2 linked regions of the Homo sapiens genome follow. The gene in region 2 interacts genetically with the main gene of each other region. Each region holds a gene or a part of one and is shown on either strand. Other genes may lie near its edges.

The links. Genes that interact genetically often act in the same process or in processes that back each other up.
Region 1: changes in CDC73 (region 2) and KRAS are lethal when combined (synthetic lethality), as found in Homo sapiens cells (2 studies listed by BioGRID, with this or other methods).

The regions. Positions count from the first base shown.
Region 1 is NC_000012.12:25,209,430-25,212,929, forward strand, and holds part of KRAS (GTPase KRas), read right to left. Parts: intron 2,750-3,500; coding exon of another isoform or gene 2,749-2,749; intron 483-2,748; coding exon 366-482; 3' UTR 1-365. UniProt on the Homo sapiens protein: Ras proteins bind GDP/GTP and possess intrinsic GTPase activity. Plays an important role in the regulation of cell proliferation.
Region 2 is NC_000001.11:193,128,531-193,132,030, reverse strand, and holds part of CDC73 (parafibromin), read right to left. Parts: intron 1,858-3,500; coding exon 1,788-1,857; intron 1-1,787.

The sequences.
Region 1 (3,500 bases), on a different chromosome or scaffold from region 2:
AACACAGAATAGGGATGATTCAAAAGCTTCATTAATTTGTTTCACACCAACATTCACAATTGGTAAGAAAAATAAGAAGTAATCAACTGCATGCACCAAAAGCCCCAAGACAGAAATCTTAGGTATTCAGTTTCTTTTTCACAGGCATTGCTAGTTCAAAAACCAAAACTCTGGGAATACTGGCACTTAGAGGAAAAAAAAACTTCCACTGTCATTTTAAAATAAGCATTTAAGGTAAAAGCTAACAGTCTGCATGGAGCAGGAAAAAAATTAGGTAATGCTAAAACAAATGCTAATAATTTAGTGTAATGTACAAAAATTACCACTTGTACTAGTATGCCTTAAGAAAAAAGTACAAATTGTATTTACATAATTACACACTTTGTCTTTGACTTCTTTTTCTTCTTTTTACCATCTTTGCTCATCTTTTCTTTATGTTTTCGAATTTCTCGAACTAATGTATAGAAGGCATCATCAACACCCTGAAATACATAAAAAGTATTAAAATGTGAATATATACGATGGCTTCATGTGTACAGGTAACAAATTTCATTAATGGAAAAAATATTAAGAAAGGATTCTTTATGTTTCTCTTCAGGCAACTGAATATATATTACATATATTAGGACTTTTAGAATTCTTAAATGTCATCCGCATAGGTGTTTTGTCAATATTATAAACAGGAACACTAATTTTCACAAAAGACAAGGATAACCAATGGCACAGAATTTTAAATAAGGTAACGACTTTTTCACAGGAGAACTTAATTTGCTACTATTTTTTCCACATTGGCAAACCTAAGTCATCAAAATCCAAATGCATGTGTGTGTGTGTACACTTAATTGTCCTTATGTTTCTGGACTTTAGATATAAGCCATGCAACTGTAAACTATGTTCATATATCTTCACACACAGTAACAGTATTTGAGCTCCAGTTCTATACTTACGTAAAATCCATTGGATTTAAAAATTTACCAAGAAGTAAACAGTATTCGAACATCCTATTCCAATAATTTATCAACAAGTAAACAGTATCTAAACATATTATTTCAGTTTTCAAATGATATATATTAAGGGATTAGTTTCAATTCATATATTTATCATTAAGAAAAAGGTTTAAAGTGACCCCAACACAGGAGAATACCACTTTAAAAAAAACACTAATACCTCAGATTTGTGGAGAAATTAGCTAAATCATTTGAAAGGTCTTATAGTTTACCAATTTGGAGGAGATTCTTTCTATCCCATAAAGTTTTAATTTCTGTTGTATTCAAAAGCTTGCCATATAAAGCCAAATATCCTGTCTTCAAAGAGTTTAACAGTTAGTCATTGTGACCACCATCTATTTATGATTAAAGCAAGGTTATTTAAATTTAATGGCTAAAAGCGATTTTAAGCCATAATACTTTTCAACCTAATAATCTACAGTGTGAAAAATGGCACTCTCAAACTGGTAGTAGATTTTAAACCTGCAGTACTTAAATTATGCAAGATCCATACACAAGTCAATTCTTGTCATGTCTCCAATTAAAAGAAAAATATAAATAAAAGCAAAAAATGAAGAAAAAATATGATTCTCTCTGTATTTTAAAGCCTGTTCAACTGAGTAGTAACTATAAAAAGAAAATCTGTTAACCTCACAATACTTCCAAACCTAGACAGCAGAGGGAGTCTTAGAAACAAATACCCAACACATTAAGTTGTATAAATCAAGCCACTTTAGGAACAATGAAAACTGGGTTTTTACTCATTGTAATCACTTTGTAGGATATTATAAACTGTGTAAATAAATGTATTAAAAAAATTATATGTGTAAAAATATTCAAGTGATATTATCTTGAAATTAATTTAAAATGTTAAGTGGGCGGGGTGCGGTGGCTCAAGCCTGTAATCCCAGCACTTTGGGAGGCCAAGACGGGTGGATCACTTGAGGTGAGGAGTTTCAGACCAGCCTGGCCAACATGGTGAAACCCTGTCTCTACTAAAAATACAAAAATTAGCTGGGTGTGGTAGCAGGTGCCTGTAATCCCAGCTACTCAGGAGGCTGAGGCAGGAGAATTGCTGAACCCGGAGAGGCGAAGTGCATTGCAGTGAGCCGAGATAGCACCACTGCACTCCAGACTGGGTGACAGAGCATGACTCTGTCTCAAAGAAAAAAAAACAAAAAATGTTAAGTGGTATTTCTCCTTTACTGTACTACTAAGATTAACGATATTTCAAAATAAATCTGGAGCATGAACAATGAAAATTAGCTACAGTTCATGAATTTTCCTAATAGATCTATAATTCAAGAAAGCGTGACCAATATTTTAAGAGAGGTAAACATAGAATGGGAATAAGAGGCTAGTCCACATTAAGCAAACAGTAGGATAAAAACCAGCATTATTTATTTGAGCACTAGTGAAAGTCTCCAATAAAGTCCCCAAACTGCACTCACTGATGTTTCCCACTCTCTAATATCATTACTGATACTACACAAACATATGCTTTTGTTTCTCCCACAGGAGAAAGGAAAAGTGGTAAGAAATAATTTATCAGCAATACAATACCATCAAGGTTTGATTACATATATGTATGTGTATGTATCCCTTCAGGCTAAACTCTTTAACACATATAGAGGGGAAAATTTCCAATGATACAATAAAAATTATTCTGTAGCTTGCCAGCACTTGACAATTTACTTGACAGTTTAGAATCATAAACCCTTAGAATGTGATAGAATCTTAAAAGAGGATCTAACTCCCTTACCCTGAATGAATAAATTCCCTCTGATCACATCCTTATGTAATCTACTCCATTTCTACTACTTTTACAATGAAGAAAAATGCCAATGGTACTAAAATGGTAAAGCAGAAAACAATGAAAAACCATGTGATGGACACAGAGAAGACACATTTTATGGTGAAAACACAGAATTTGAAAACATTACTTCCTAAGATTCTGACAAAGATTCTAGGCTTATGTTGCAATGAACTCTCCTCTCTACATCATCTTGTTAAAATTAAGTAATTTTGGCCCAGTGCAGTGGCTCACACCTACAGTCACAGCAATTTGGGAGGCTGAGGCAGGAGAACTGCTTGAGGCCAGGAGTTTGAGACCAGCCTGGGCAACACAGCAAGAACCTGTCTCTATTTTAAAAATAAATAAGTAATAAAAAAAAATTAATTAATTTCAATCGTGAAGGAAATGTCACAACCTACACAGAGCAATGAATTCTTTTTTTCTCATATGAGAACTAATCATTCTCACACATACACATAACATTATCTTTTTCAGGACTAAGAAAAGCTAATTTATATATGTTTATCATTGTCAAATTTTTATTTATGTATTTATTTCCTAAAGGTGGGGTCTCATTACGTTGCCCAGTCTGGTCTTAAACTCCTGGCCTCAAGCAGTCCTCGCGCTGTGGACTCCTAAAGTTCTGGCATTATAAGTGTGAGCCACTGTCCCTGTGCCAAAATTTTTTTATTTTTACTTTTTTTAAGAGATGGAGTCTC
Region 2 (3,500 bases):
CTATTGTAAATGCTGGGTATTTAACAAGACAAACAACTGTCTGTCCCCTTAGGATTTACCTTCTAATGGGAAAGACAGACACTATGTACATAAACAGATATATAATTTCAGGTCAATGTATGAGATCTGGTGAAAAATAAATCAGGATGGCACTATATAAAAACCACAGAAGGAGGAAAGGAATACTATATTTTCGATAAGAGTGGTCAGAGAAGTCTTCTCTGATGGAACAACATTTGGAAAAACACTTGAGCACAGATCTAAATGAAATAGTAAGCAAGTGAGCCATGTGATAATGTAGAGAAAGACAACTCAAGATAGAAAGAGAAAGTGCAAAGGTGCTAAGATTAGCATAGCTAAAAGACCAAAAAGACTGACTGTTATGAGCAAAGGAAGAATGGTAGAAGATGGAGTCACAGAGATTTAGGCAGAGGCAAGATGACTGCCAGGGTAACAAGTATGAGTTTTATTCTAAGAGTGATGGGAAGCCACAGGTGAGTGACACAATCAAGTTTATATACTTTTTCAAAAGCAGGACACTCTATTGCTAAGACTACACTATAGGAAATAAAGAGTGGGGACCTGTGAGGAAGCTATACAATAATCTAAAAAGCAAGGATGAAATAGGGCAGGTAGAATGGTAAGAAGTTGTCATACTTTTAAAAAGAGAAAAAAACAACTTGTTGATAGAATGGATGTGAGATGTGACAAAGATGTCACCAAAGTTCTGGCCTAAGCAACTGCAGGAAGAGCGTCTCACTACCCCTTACTAAAGTGGGAACACTGAGAAAACAACAGACTTGTTTTTGTTCTGTGTGAGGGCAGAAGGGAAAGAGGGAATCAGGCATTCCATTTTCAGTGTTAAATTTCAGATGCCTATTCAACATTCAAGGAAACATGTTGACAGTAAATTTATAAATCTGGTGCCCTGAAAGAAATCAATGCTGAAAAAAACACTTGAAATTTCATCAGCATATATATGATATCTGAGCCATAAAACTGAAAGAGATCACCTAGAGAATACAGGTTAAAAGAAAAGATAAAAAAAAAGATCAAGTCTTGGAAACTTCAAGAATTAGAGGTCAGGTACAGAAGTAACCAAAATAAACTGAGAGGTGAACAACGAGTAGAAAGAGAACCAAGAGGCTGGTGTTCCAAATGCCAAATGAAGAAAGGCTTTCAAAAATGAGTGGTCAACAGTATCAAATGCTGTTGAGAGGTCAAGTATGGTACAAGAGACCAAAGGATGTAGCAATCCTTAAATCAGTTTTGACCTTACAAGGAGTGATTTTAGTGGGATGGTAAGGATGAAGGCCAGACTAGAGTGGCTTCAAGAAAGAAACAAAGGTAAAAAAGAAGCAATGATACCACACGAACTCTTGCAGAATATTTTACAGTATCAGGGAGGAGATAAATGAAGCAGTAGACAGTAGGAATGTGGGATCAAAAACATTTTTTAAACATGAAATCTTACTGTAGGTATTCTAAAAGGGAATGATCCAGAAGAAAGTAGAAAACTGATGATGTCAGAGAAACAACAATTTACGAAGACAAAGTCTTTGAGACTGTGAAAGGAGATGGAATCCACACACAAGGAAGGGGTGACTGGCCATAAGGGCAAAGACAGTGCATCCACTGTATAAGAAAAAGGTGAGCACATGGACAAAAATGAAGGTAGGTTAATTTTTTGGTGGAAATACAAATTCTCTTCCCTCTAATCATTATTTCATAGGGGAAAAAAGAAACAATGTCTGTTTAAGACTGGGAACAATTTAAAAAGTACTCACACGCTTCACCATTGAGATATCCAAGTAGATCTTTTCGATCAGGTCTTCTAACCACAGGAATATTTTCAGTCTAAAACCAAAATTTTAAATGAGATATGAAATGAATAACAATGATACACAACTTAATAAATATTAACATGTAATGTCTGAATTTTATTCCAACATATCTTGAAAAAACGTATTTTAAATCACATTTGTAAAAAATGACTAGGCTAAAAGAACCTAATAAAAATCCTGAAAATTTATTAAACATGTTAGTTACTTTTAATAATTTTCTTACAACTTGATATTAACATGTAATGTCTGAATTTTATTCCAATATATCTTGATACAATATATTTTAAATCACATTTGAACAAAATGACTAGGCTAAAAGAACCTAATAAAAATCCTGAAAATGTATTAAACATGTTACTTTTAATAATTTTCTTGGCTGGGCGCGGTGGCTCACACCTAGAATCCCAGCACTTTGGGAGGCTGAGGTGGGTGGATCACCTGAGGTCAGGAGTTAAAGACCAGCCTGGCCAACATGGCAACACCCCGTCTCTACTAAAAAGACAAAAATTAGCTGGGTGTGGTGAAGCATGCTTGTAATCCCAGCTGCTCAGGAAGCTGAGGCAGGAGAATCACTGGAACCCAGGAGGCGGAGACAGGCGTTTCAGTGAGCCGAGACTGCACCACTGCACTCCGGCCTGGGCAACATAGAGAGATTCCGTCTCTAAATAAATAAATAAATAAATAAATAAATAAATAAATTTCTTTTTGAAATTCCAGGAAGATATACAGAAAATAATCATTAGAAATAAAGCAATGACCAGGCACAGTGGCCCACACCTGTAATCCCAGCACTGCGGGAGGCCAAGGCGGGCGCATCCCTTGAGGTCATGAGTTCAAGACCAGCCTGGCCAACATGGTCAAACTCCATCTCTACTAAAAACACAAAAATTAGGCAGGGCGCAGTGGCTCACACCTGTAATCCCAGCACTTTGGGAGGTCGAGACGGGTGGATCATGAGGTCGGGAGTTCAAGACCAGCCTGAGCAAGATGGTAAAACCCCATCTCTACTAAAACTACAAAAATTAGCTAGGCGCGGTGACAGGCACCTGCAGTCCCTGCTACTCGGGAGGCTGAGGCAAGAGAATCGCTTGAACCTGGGCGGCAGAGGTTGCAGTAAGCCGAGATCACGCCACTGTACTCCAGCCTGGGTGACAGAGTGAGACACTGTCTCAAAAAAAAAAAAAAAAAAAAAATTAGCCGGGCGTGATGGCAGAAGCCTATAATCCCAGCTACTCAGGAGACTGAGGCGAGACCCAGTCTGAAACACAAACAAACAGTGCAAGAAAAATTGGTAGCTAACAGATTTCAGTTTAAATCCTTTGTCACTTTATATGTGTAACAATGAAGTAACAACAAGAACCTTTAGTATCTTTGGCCAATGACCTTATATTGAATACTTATTATAATTTACTGCACCAAACATTCTGCACTGACTCCTCAATGATTTAGATAAACTGTATTTAATCACTTAAAAATTAACCTTTTATTTTAAAAAGGTCAAGCTAAATTTTAGTTTCTCCTTATGAGTTTAAAAATTTGAGTGCAGAGTTTTTTTGTGCTTGTATTCTTTTAAACCAGCCTAGGCCAGGCATGGTGGTTCATGCCTGTAATCCTAACACTCTGGGAGGCCAAAGTGGGTGGATTGCTGGAGCCCAG